3 separate regions of the Homo sapiens genome follow, and all the other regions are linked to region 1. The links come from fine-mapping of genetic effects on gene expression. A gene starts in region 1. Each other region holds a variant in brackets. All regions are shown on one strand. Distances are from middle to middle.

Region 1 (4,156 bases):
GTGAGCTGGCACAGGGGCAGGAGCGGAGGCGGCACCAGGGCTGGAAGAGCAGGCTCCCTTGTTCCGAGGCAGTTTGGCATTCAGCTGCCTCCCAGTGCCAAGTCGTAATGAGACTTGTAGAGGCACAGACCGATGCTTTTCCAATGCTCCCCGTGTACCCTGAGGCATTGACACGAGGTCTATCACCATGGCATCAAGGTGCTTAGACAACCTGCTACTCCCAGGAGCCAGGAATAGCGTGAAGCAGCGGGTCTGCATCTCACTGTGACATATGTGAGCATGTATCACTGTGATGGATCAACAGTCAATAACACTGGGGTCCCCGCCTGCCCCCTGCGCGGTAGGAAACTTCTCCTGTTCATATGTCTTCCTCCCCTGGTGGGCGGCCCCTGCTCTTGCCAGCCTCCCAGTGCTCGTGGCATTGGTGGAAACGTCTTTAGGCTTTCACTGTTCATGTTTGGAGCAGCCCAGGGAAAAGCATGTGTGCAAAGAACTGAAATGGATCTCATGATGCCGTCACCGGGGGCTGCAGCTGGACACACCTGAGCAGGCAGTAGCAGGGTGGGAGAAGGCTCGGACATCATACCACTGGCAGTTCAAATGCCCGCCCCACAGACCTGCCCTGATCCTAGGCATGTTGTTTTGCCTCCTGGGGCCGAGGTCTTCTCTTTTGTACAACTGGGATCATCACATTTATCTGGTGAGTGAAGGGACACCTGCAGAGAAGGGAGGTAAGCGCTCAGCATGCGCTGAAACTCAGCCACCTTCCCGCCTGCGTCTTCCATGTACCAGGTGCCTCCAGCTCCACCAGCCATCACCACACCCCAGCCCCTTTCCTCTGCCACTCCAGACACGCAGGCAGATGTGTGGGTGCCAAGGGTGAGGGGCTCCCAGTCTGCTGGGGAAGGGGGTCCCGGCAGCAAACAATTCCTGTCCCCGGCTGATGCTGCTAGAAGTGAGAGCAGGGGCTGTGACCTGCAGCCAATGGGGAAGCAGTTCGAGGGTCTCACAGTTGGGAGGCCGAGTGAGCTAAGCTTTAGGGCAGCCACAGGGAGGAGCTGACGTTAGAGATGGACCAGAGAGGAGGCGTCTCCTGGGCCTCTGCAGGGGACCCACAGAGGTTCTCGCTGGGTGAATGATGGGCAGCCTGCCTTTCACCTGCCCTGGGTGTTTGGCCCTCTCTAGGGCTGGGAACATGAGGCTCCTGCCCTTCACCCCAGCCTCCCTACCACCCCTCACCAAAAAACCTACCTTTGGTAAACACATTATTAAGGGATTCTCAGAATATTTTAGAGAAGTTTGTGTGAACATGCTTGTGGTCGTTTTAAAAGTGTTTCAGAAGTGAGAGGCTAAACCAAGGCCCGAAGTCACTCATGGAAATCCCATGATCCCTCTGCACAGTTACCAGTGTCTCCTGGACGGGGCCCCTGCTGGAAAGGGGCCGAGACAGGGTGAAGCCCACCAGGGGTTGGAGTGGGGAGGCTTGGGTCCCGTCTCCAGCTCTTCTTCTGGTTGTGTGGCCTGGACCAGTCTCAGTGCCAGGTTCCTCATCTGGCGGCCACCCTGCTGGGCTGTTCCAGCTTTGCTTCTGAGCGGAAGGTCAGGGGCTGCCAGGGAGGAGCTTCGTGGGGAAAGCAAAGGGGAAGCTGTCAGCGCCGGCCGTCCCCTCCTGTGAACTAAAGAGTCGCCGCAGACAAGCAGGCCCCCAGATGGAGAACCAGCCTGTGAGGTGGCGGGCCCTGCCAGGCCTCCCACGCCCTCCTGGGCTCCCCGCAGCCCCCTGGCTCCTCCTTGGCGTGCTGCTGCTGCCCGGGACCCTGCGACTGGCAGGTAGTGTCTGTCTTCCTCCTTCTCTCTACTCTCTCGCTCCAGAACATCAGAGCGGCTTTCATCCCGCCCGGCGCAGCTAATTCCCAGGGACCTGTCTCTGGGGATTTGCTGGTTGTCGTTTGAACGCTGCAGACTTCACAGGGGAAGCCTTCTGGGACCGAGAAGATGTTTAGCTAATGCCTTGCCAAGGTGGCTTTTGAAGGGGAGGGGGACAGCGCTCTCTCCCTCGCTGCTGTGACAGCTTTGCCCCAGCAGTCTGGCCTCCTGGCCCTTAAACAAGGAGGGTGGGCGCTGTGTGGCTGGGGCCAGGGGCGGGGCAGGGGGGAGGGACAGCTCCCCATCCGAGGAACCTCACGTGGCTGCTGCGGGGGACACTGCGTTGAACCTGGCAAGTGGTGGGGCTACCCTCTGGGTTGTTGCTGGCATTGGCCAGGGAGAGCGGGGAGAGGGGGGAGGGGGGGATACCAGGGCCAGCCACAGGGCTCTGCGCCCAGAGGCACAAAACTGTCAGTCACCAGAAAGGGTCTCACCTCCCAGTTCCTGAAACACAACCAGAGGCCAAGTGTTTTAGGATGCAAGTGTGTCTTTCCACGCCAGCGGCGCTCCTTTCCTGGTTCCAGGCTTTCTTGGAAGCTGGGTGGCCGGGATCCGAGCCAAGCTGTGGGGTAGGTAGCCTCAGGGCCAGTTCATCAGGCCAGGGACGGCCCAGGAGGGTCCCATTCCAGGGCTGCCAGCACGAGGGCTCAGTGAATTCTGCCAGATTCTCTCTGCCCCTCCTTGGCCGGGCAGCAGCCAACCCTCCCTCTGGCCAAAGGGGTGGCCTCCACTGTGGAGACAGGGTGCCTTCCTTTCTATTCTCTTAGTTTATGGGGCTTTCAAGAGCTGCCCCCACCCTGTCCTGCTGCACCCCCTCTCATGACCACAAATTAGGCTTTATGGAGCCCTTAGCAGGGCACGTACTGGCCACCCTCACAGCACCCCTTGGGGCTCCTATTGTCCTCACCTGCACCATTTTAAGGACAGGGAAAAGGAGGCCCAGGGAAGCCAGTTCGTTTGCTCAAGACCTAGCCGGTAAGTAGAGGCCAGCCTCAGCCCCAGGCCAGCCTCAGCCCCAAGCTGGGCCCCTCGGCCAGTAGGCTCAGAGGATCCTCTTACTTGTAAAGAATGTTCTTCACCGGAAACTTACCCTGGGGAGGCAAAGGCTGACCTGTGTGTACCTCCCCAGGCTGCAGCCCAGAGCCCTAGGACACCATCTCCTTTAATCCTGTGCACGCCTCGCCCCACACCCCAGACAGTTGGTGCAAACACGGCCAGACCCCGGAAATGCAGCCTGTTAGTGTCAATGTGTCTCAACTACAGTCATTTTTAATTTAATTTCCCCCCAATTCCCATCCTTTCCCTTTGTGTGGTTCCTCCTCCCCAAAAGACACCCAGCACACCCTGGTAACCGAGCAGTAAGAGGTTTTATGGGGTGCTACTGGGGAAAAGCTCTTTTGTAACAGTCTCAACTATAACAAAACATTCCCAGTGCCACCCCCTCCCACCCGGTATTGCAACAAACATTACATAAAAGAGAAACTGTTCTTTCACAAGAGGTGAAAACACCCTTACGGTGTCCTAGAGTCCCTTGGAGCAGCAGACAAACCCCCACCCATGATTTTTTTTTTTTTTTTTTTTTTTGAGAGTTTCACTCTTGTCACTCAGGCTGAAGTGCAATGGCGCCATCTTGGTTCACGGCAACCTCTGCCTCCTGGGTTCAAGTGATTCTCCTGCCTCAGCCTCACGAGTAGCTGGCACTACAGGTGCCCACCACCATGCCCAGCTAATTTTTGTATTTTTAGTAGAGACAGAGTTTTGCCATGTTGGCCAGGCTGGTCTTGAACTCCTGACCGCAGGTGATCTGCCCGCCTCAGCCTCCCAAAGTGCTGGGATTACAGGCGTGAGCCACTGTGCCCGTCCTGTTTTTATTTTTTTGAGACAGGGTCTCGCTCCGTCCACCAGGCTGGAGTGCAGTGGTGCAATCTCAGCTCACTACAACCTCTGCCTCCCTCACTCAAATGATCCTCCCACCTCAGCCTCCCGAATAACTGGAACCACAGCGTGTGCCACCACACCCAGCTATTTTTTAAATTTTTTCGTAGAGATAGAGACTCACAGTGTTGCCCAGGCTGGTCTCGAACTCCTGACCTCAGGTGATCCACCCGCCTTGGCCTCCCAAAGTGCTGGGATTACAGGCGTGAGCCACTGTGCCCAACCCCCAACCCGCTCTTTGTCCTACCCCTGTGCATCCCCCTTCATCTATCTGTCACTCCATGTCACACCCCTG
Region 2 (4,156 bases), 52 kb after region 1:
CTCTGCAGCCATGCCTTTAAGGAGTGCCTACGGGGTAGCACGATCAGATGGACAGGCCAGGGCTGCCCAGAGCTGGGGGTGGGAGCAAGGTAAGCAGAGAGGTGAGGGAAGGAGGGTGCTGGCTTAGCAGGAGCTGAATGAATGGGCCTGGAGGGGAAAAGCTAAGGGGGATGGGGTGGCTTGAGTGGAGTAGGTGAGGCCTAGGTGAAGGGGAGCTGTGGACCTTCCAGGACGGACGGATGTGAGCAGTCCTGAGTGGGGACTGGAGTTAGGGTGGGGAAGGGAAGCCCCAGGCAGCCCCTGCAGGCCCCTGCCCCTGGGCCCTACCGCAGCAGGGCAGCCCTGTCTCTGGGTCTCAGCTGATGCTTCCCTCTGCCCACTGGCCCCTGACCTGGTGGGATTTCCCACCATCTCTCCCGGCCCAGCCTGCCCTGCCCTCCTAGGTCTTCCCAACCTCCCCTCTGCAGAAACATCTCAGCCACGTCTGGCACCCCCAGGCATCCCTGCCTGCCTCTAGGAAGTTGACCCCTTCAATGGGTTTCAGCCTCCAACCCCACCCCCGCTTGACTCCTGCTCTGTCAGCACTTGCTTGAGAAAATCATCCTGGGAAACCAGCTTCTGGGAGCAGGGGCCTTGCCACTCGGTTCTGCGAGCCTGCTGAAGCCCTCCTTGCCACGTGTGCTTGCAGGCGGGGGCCCAGAACTAAGCTAGGAGGCCACTGGCTGTCCTGTGGGACCAGGGAAGTCTGGTGCCACCCTAGCAGAGGGCCCATGGACTTCTTCTGGAGGTCAGTCTGTGCCCAGCCTCTACCACCAGTCCAGAACTTGCAGTGGGTGCGGTAAACGGTGGCCCCTCCTCAGCAAACATTTCCAGGGGATTCTGGCAGCAGAGTTTCCATGGGAACATGTGCTGGTTCTGCGCTGAACCCGGTGTGGCTGGGGTTCCCTTCACAGCCAATATTGCAGGAACTGAGCCTGGTGGCCTCGGCCAGGGTAGGCAGTGCTCTTTGGCCACCCAGTGTCACAAACCTGAACTCAAGTTACAGGCAAAACCTGCTTTTCCTTTTTCTTTCTCTCTCTCTCTCTTTTTTTTTTTGTTAAAGCACATTCTAATGTAAAGTCCATGCTCCATTCTAAAGATGCCTCTGGGATTTCAGGGATGGATTTTTATGTAGTTCAATAGTTTTCTTGGCAGACAGCTTATGCAGGAGAGGTGGGCCGTTGGCTCAGTCCAGCCAGGCTGAGTGGCGTCACTCCATTCCTTGCAATGCCAGGGGATGTCATTTGTCCACCTGAGGGGGCTTCCCCAGTCTCCCTTCCCTGACCTGTGGTCAGAATGATGGCCTCAGCCTTGACTGAGCGCGGGTCAGGCCAGACTCTCTGAACTTGGTGTTGGCGTGTGTTTTGTGTGTGTCTGGAGGTGACATATGTGGGTGACAGAAGCATATGTTACAGTGAAACATTAAAACTACAGCAAAGTGAAACTCCTCTGATGCACCTGCCACCTCCCAGCCTCCATACCCGTCCCCTCCCCAGTAGTAACCAATCGGGTCATTTGGGAGTGTTTTCTTCGTCGCTGCTTTTATGGCATCTAGGTGTCTACCTGTGAACATGTAAAATGTGGAGCGCCGTGCGGGCTTCCGAACAGCCGCGATGCATTCATTTTGTAGGTGTTGTTTGCACTTGCTTTGTTGATGCAGCCCCACGTGGTGGGATCTGCCGGAGACAGCACACAGGAGCTGCCAGACTCCAATTACAGCAAAGGATCCTGCAGGACAGATGGATCCTAATTTAATCAGGCCCCCTATCGAAGGCCTTTTCAGTTGTTTATGATTTTTCAACCTCACATAAGGGGCTGCAGGGAACATCCTTGTACACACACACATCTGCAAAACTTTCCCTATGGGAAATGAGGAGGGATTCCTGGGACCCAGTGCATAGAAGTTCACTGTTCTAACAGTCACCACCAAATCGCCAGGCCC[C/T]GAGGTTGGACTGGTTTCTATTCCTCGGACTCTTTATCTAGAATATTTCATTTAATCCTGAAAATAGGTCTGTGATGGTGGGCAGGGGTGATCTCCCCATTTTATCGAAGCAGAAGCTACCACTCAGAACAGCTGACTGGCTCCAGGTCACACAGCCCAGGAGGAGCAACGCTGGGCTGCCTCGGCGTGTGTGCAGTCCTGCTGTCCCCAAGGGCATGTGTGCAGTCCTGCTGTCCCCAAGGCCAGGTAGGGGAGGTGATGGGGGAGGCAGAAAGAGCCATGGAGGGATGTGGTGTCCCCAGGAGTAGGGAAGCCCACAGAAGAACAGGTTTCCTTCAGAGATGGGCTGGCAGCCTCACATTCCTCTTATCCAATTTCTCAGAAGTGTGTGTGTGTGTGTGTGTGTGTGTGTGTGTGTGTGAAGTTGGGGGGGTCCTCCTGCCTCCCGGTATTCTATCTCTTTGGGGAAATGGAGGCAGATCCATAGAGCCCCAGGGGTTGGGCCTCCCCAGCAGCCCACGCCCACTGTGAGGCCTGGATCCTGGCAGCCTGTATGCTCTGATCCCAAGTCTACCCTGGAAATTCCCAGGCACAGCATGCCTGGAGGTGTGAGCCGCCTCTTAGAAGCTTTATAATCCCGGATAATGCTGCTGTAATTGGCATTGTTTTTCCATTACAATCCTTTCATTACCTGAAAACTGACTTTGCAAATGGCTATATCTGGAGTGGGTTTTATTTTACCACTTTGAGGACCTTGAGGGGCCGAGGAGTGGGGGCATTTTCTCTGTCTCTCCCTTGACTGCCCCATCCCCATCCCCCAGTGAGTTCCACAGGCCCAAGTGGGCCAGATCCTGGCCTTGGCTCAGGACATAGCCCTGTACCTTGCTGCCCGCCATGGGCTGATCCAGGGATGTCTCTTCTCCCCAGATGCCCCTTCTGTCCCCCTGCCATCAAGTCCACCCATAAGAGCCTCCCTCCAACCCCTCCTCCTCCCAGCCATTCCCAGTCCAAACAAGTCTCACCTGATCTTTCTATAATACATATCTGACCACATGATTCCTCTCTCAAAAGCCTGCCATACCTTATGGTAATGGTCAATTCATTCCAACAAGGGGGCCACCATCATTCAATGGGGAACAGTCTTTTCAACAATTGGTGCTGGGAGAGCCAAACCTCTACATGACCCCTACCTCACACCCTATACCAAAACTCACAGTGGTTTCCACTGTCCATAGGATCGGGGCTCAACCCCTTAGTCTCACATTCAGGGCTCTTACCACTCCTACCACTCCTTCACTTTTTTTTTTCTTTTCTTCTTTCTTTCTTTCTTTTTTTTTTTTTGAGATGGAGTCTCTCTGTGAGGCCCAGGCTGGAGTGCAGTGGTGTGATCTGGGCACACTGCAATCTCCACCTCCTGGGTTCAAGCAATTCTTCTGCCCCAGCCTCCCGAGTAGCTGGGACTACAGGCACGTGCCACCAGGCCCAGCTAATTTTTTTTGTATTTTTAGTGGAGATGGGGTTTCACCATATTGGCCAGGCTGGTCTCAAACTCCTGACTTCAAGAAATCCACCTACCTCGGCCTCCCAAAATGCTGGGATTACAGGTGTGAGCCACTATGCTTGGCTTTTTTTTTTTTTTTTTTTTTTTTTTTTTTTTGAGACAGGGTTTCCCTCCTATCACCCAGGCTGGAGTGCTGTGGTGCAATCTTGGCTCACTGCAACCTCTGTCTCCCAGGTTCAAGCAATTCTCCTGCCTCAGCTTCCCAAGTAGCTGGGATCACAGATGAGTGCCACCACGCCTGGCTAATTTTTTGTATTTTTAGTAGAGACAGGGTTTCACCACGTTGGCCAGGATGGTCTCAAACTCCTGACCTCAAGTGATCCGCCTGCCTCAGCCTCCCAAATTGCTGGGATTACAGGTGTGAGCCACCACACCTGGCCATCCTTCATTCTTTTAACAACATTTGTCCCGCTCCAACTATGTGTCAAGCCCAGTGCTGTGGCTGGAATAAGAAATGGACAGTCCTGTCTTCATGGAGTCCACCAGCTCATTTCTGATTGGCTCCTACTGGCCCAAAGTCACCCCAGCTCCATTCATGCTTCCATCTATGGCTGCTGTTCCCCAAGATGCTGAGCTCCCCACCTCTGAGTCTGGGCTCCTACCATTCTCCCTGC
Region 3 (4,156 bases), 34 kb after region 1:
ATGCTCTGAGCCATTATGTGCTGTGACTGGGGGTGGCGCCGGCTTCTGCCTGCGAGTTAAGTAGCTCTCAGCAGCTAATCCCGCAGTAAATGGGCTGGGGTTTGGCAGGAGGCCAGGGTTTTTAATTAGCTTCTGCCCTGAGATGAGGCAGTTGTGGCTCCACTGTCAGCAGTGGCCGTGTGGTGCCTGCAATGAGGGGGGATGTCCAGGCCACCTCCCTCTGCCTCCAGAGGGCTGCCTGTACCGCCTCGTGACTCCCCAGCCTTCACCTTCCCAGCAGGCCCGGCCCAGCCTCCACTGTGACCAGCGGGAGCTTTCTCCAGCACAGCTCTGACCCTGGCGCTCCCACTTCGAGCCCTCAGATGTTTCCTATGCTCTTCATGCAGCCAGCACGGCCACGCCACGCCTGCCCCTCCCAGGCAGGCTCCTCTCTCGGGCCACACACTGACCTTCTCTCTCTCTCTCTTTTTTTCTTTCTTTCTTTTTTTTTTTTTTTTTGAGATGGGATCTCGCTCTGTCTCCCAGGCTGGAGTGCAATGGTGTGATCTCGATTTACTGCAACCTCCGCCCCCTGGGTTCAAGCGATTCTCCTGCCTCACCCTCCCGAGTAGCTGGGATTACAGGCGCCCACAACCATGCCCAGCTAGTTTTTATATTTTTAGTAGAGATGGGGTGTTGCCATGTTGGCCAGGCTGGTCTCAAACTCCTGATCTCAGGTGATCCACCCGACTCGGCCTCCGAGTCCCAAAGTGCTGGGATTACAGGCATGAGCCACCGTGCCTGGCCTATGCTGACCTTCTCCACGTGCCTCCAGACCTCCAGGCCTTGGCACCTGCTGTTCCCTCTACCTGAGGCTCCCTCCTCCCTCTTTTGCTAAATGAACTTCTTGCCCTCAGGATTTCACCTTCAATATCGCTTCTGCCCAGTGGGGCATTGGTTTCCTCCTCATGTGCCAGAGGCTCTGTGCCTGGCAATCAACCCACATACCATGTTTCGGCAAAACCACTGGTTCATCCTCCATCTCTTCACTGGTCCCTAAACTCCAGGAGGGTAGGGACGGTGCCCACCTCCTCACACTGCCTGGCTTGCCAGTGCTATCAAGTGTGTGTTGGTTGAGCAAGGGCCTTCTAAGCAGCACCTCCTAAGCACCAGGCACCTACTCCTTGTGCCCTCATTGTAACTTTGCATCAGTCTCACAAAAGAGGGTTATTGCTGAAGAAACCAAGACCCATGGCCGGGTGCAGTGGCTCACACCTGTAATCCCAGCATTTTGGGACGCCAAGGCGGTGGATCACCTGAGGTCAGGAGTTCGAGACCAGCCTGTCCAACATGGTGACACCTCATCTCTACTAAAAATACAAAATTAGCCGGGCGTGGTGGCACACATGCCCGTAGTCCCAGCTGCTCAGGAGGCTGAGGCGGGAGAATCGCTTGAACCCGGGAGGCAGAGGTTGCAGTAAGCTGAGATTGCACCATTGCACCCCAGCCTGGGCAACAGAGTGAGACTCCATCTCAAATAATAATAATAATAATAATAATAATAATAATAATAATAATAATAAATAAAACCAAGGCCCAGAGGGGAACTGGCTCGCTCGAGGCCAGAGCCAGTGACAGCAGAGGAAGACTGGACACTGGACCTGGCTGGCACCACTAGGGGCCCACCCATGGCTGCTGGCTCGGTCCCTGGGGCCCTGCCCCACTGGCACTGGT[C/T]CCAGTAGCTTGGGTCCCTACCAGCCAGGTGCTCTGTCCAGGGACATCACCTCGTGTGGGCCTTTTCCATTTCCTGTGTCTCCAGGTGCAGGAATGGCTTGATGCAGGTCTTGTAGGCATTTGCCATGTTTCCCTGGAGAGGGTGAGTGGGAGGGACTGAGTGATGAATCTCTGTGTGACCTCATGACAATCTGCCATCCTTTCCCCTGGGGGGTCTGTGCGGGGAGGAAGACGAGAGCCACTCATCCCTGGCCCTGACTCCTTTCTCCCTACAGAAGCGGATGCGGGGTCCAGGGAAGGACCCCACCAGGAAGTGCCCAGATCCAAGATCTGCCAGCAGCCCCAAGCAGCATCCTTCAGAATCTGTCTACACAGTGAGTCCCGGGGCCCCCGGCTCCCTCCACCTCTTTCAGGCCTTAGGCAGAGTCTGTCTTGTACCAGGGTCTGTCTGGCTCAGTCTTGTACCAGCTGTGTGGACTCTCCTAGCCTCAAGTTCCTCATCTATAAAATGGGGATAACAATTCTTACCTCATGGAATTTCTCTGAAGCTGAAAAGAGATGACACGTGCAGGGCTCCTGGAAGGCATACGAATGTCAGGTGCCCCCCATGCCCTGTTCCCCTCCTTGGCATGGATCCTCATTCTGGGACAAGGGGTAGTGACGGCACAAGTTGGCGAAGAATGAAGAAAGCTCCTTCATCTGACCAAACAGCTCTTACCACTTCCTCCTGTTTTTATTGTATAAACAACAAAAATCACAAAAAGAGGAAGAGGTCAGGCGCCATCCCACGCCCTTAACACATCAGTGATTTGTAATGATTTGCTCTCTCCCCTCCTGGCACATGCAGATATTATCTTACATGGTCACAATCACAGCGCAGACATGCGTTGGGACCCTGTTTGTTCCACTCTCTGCTGTGTTGTAGGCATTTTCTGAAACAATTTTCCTGGAGATGTGGGTGCATCTCCAGGAAGTGGAAGGTGGGTGCAGCGTAGGGGCCGAGGAGGCCAGGCTGCCCCAGCCTGGCCAGCCAGCCAGCATGCAGCCCTCTGCCCAGCGGCTGGGGCCGGGGAGGGCTGGGAACACTCTTTTTGCTACGTTCCTTTCGGCTCCACGAACAACATATGCTCCAAGTAGAGCAAGGGAAGAAGAAATGCCACCCAGTGCCAGCTGGGGTCCCCATCTCGTGAGATCTGGCACCGCCAGGTGGGCTCCCCACTCCACGCCTGGAAGGCACACAGCCCTTCTGGGGCCCTGCAGGTTCCCAGGTGCACGCTCCCCAGGTGCACGCCCCCCAGGTGCACGCCCCCTGGCTGCGATGGTGCTTGGGTTCTGCTCGTACGTGCTGTCGTTTCTGTTCCCACAACATTGACTCACCCTAATAACGCCACAGAACACCACACAGAGGACGCCCAGGATACAGCCTTGTCTGCTGAGGATGGGGCGGGTGGCAGCGAGGCCAAGGAAATGTCCCTGTGGGGCAGTGCCAACAGTTCCAAGTGGAATGTGATGGTTCTCAAAGGGCTTTCAGCTTCCCCATCCTGGGGAGTTTCTGTCAGCCACGGTTTTGCACGTGGCCGGAGACTTCCTCATACTCTCTCCTGTCTCCCAGCATCTCATAGTGGTATTTTCCCTACCAGGGATTCTGGTGTCAACTGTTAGATGAAAATATTTCTCTCTCTCCCTCTCACTCTCACTTTCCCTCTCCCCCAGCATACACATATGTGAGATATATATATATATATATAAAAGAAGAAAATAACCAGCATCCTAATCCCATCTTCTTCCAGGATAAATACTAAGAACATTGACTAATATATTTTCCAGTATTTTTTCTATAAATATATACAAAGAAACCCATACGCACTCACACATACTTCTTTTTTAATTGGAGCAATACAGCTATTTTTTTCATGAACATCTTTCCACGTGAATAAATATCTTTCTATGAGATTATGTTTAACGGAAGAGCTCTTTTGAGCAGAGCTTCTTTTTGCCTGGGTTTCACAGCCTCTAGGATGCAGGCCGACTTCTCTGGAGTGAGGTGAACAGACCTAACTGCCTGCAGAGTTGCAGGCCAGCTTGGAGAGTAGAGGTCATAGAACTTTGCCAAGCCCTTGACATAAGGGTCTACCAACTGGGATTGGGCCTGGGCGGAGAAGAGTGACAGTCACAACGATGATGGTATCAAGAGCCATTTGTTGTGTACCTACTATGTGCCAGGGATCATGGCAGGACTTTACACCTGTTATATTTTATCAATCCTCTTGATAAGGTTTTAGGGTAAAGGTTTTGTCCCCATTTTCACTTTCTTTACTTTTCTTCTTTTCTTTCTTTTTTTTTTTTTTTTGAGCAGAGTCTCGCTCTGTCGCCCAGGCTGGAGTGCAGTGGCACGATCTTGGCTCACTGCAAGCTCTGCCTCCCAGGTTCATGCCATTCTCTT

The links. PIP is the estimated chance that this variant, and not a neighbour inherited with it, causes the effect.
Region 2: its variant is the best candidate, but not a certain one, in a credible set for the expression of NFAM1 in whole blood (TOPMed, PIP 0.71).
Region 3: its variant is the best candidate, but not a certain one, in a credible set for the expression of NFAM1 in whole blood (INTERVAL, PIP 0.58).

The regions. Positions count from the first base shown.
Region 1 is chr22:42,429,911-42,434,066 of GRCh38, reverse strand. It overlaps NFAM1 (NFAT activating protein with ITAM motif 1), which reads left to right and starts at 1,664. Exons shown (of 6, transcript NM_145912.8): 1 at 1,664-1,830. The coding sequence starts at 1,710.
Region 2 is chr22:42,377,734-42,381,889 of GRCh38, reverse strand. It overlaps NFAM1 (NFAT activating protein with ITAM motif 1), which reads left to right. Exons shown (of 6, transcript NM_145912.8): 6 at 1-1,483. Among named protein-coding and RNA genes, the nearest start is that of LINC01315, 11 kb to the right of the region's middle. The variant C/T (reference allele first, on the strand shown) is at 1,982.
Region 3 is chr22:42,395,789-42,399,944 of GRCh38, reverse strand. NFAM1 (NFAT activating protein with ITAM motif 1) reads left to right here. Exons shown (of 6, transcript NM_145912.8): 4 at 1,989-2,087. Among named protein-coding and RNA genes, the nearest start is that of LINC01315, 29 kb to the right of the region's middle. RefSeq lists a silencer at 2,828-3,122. The variant C/T (reference allele first, on the strand shown) is at 1,714.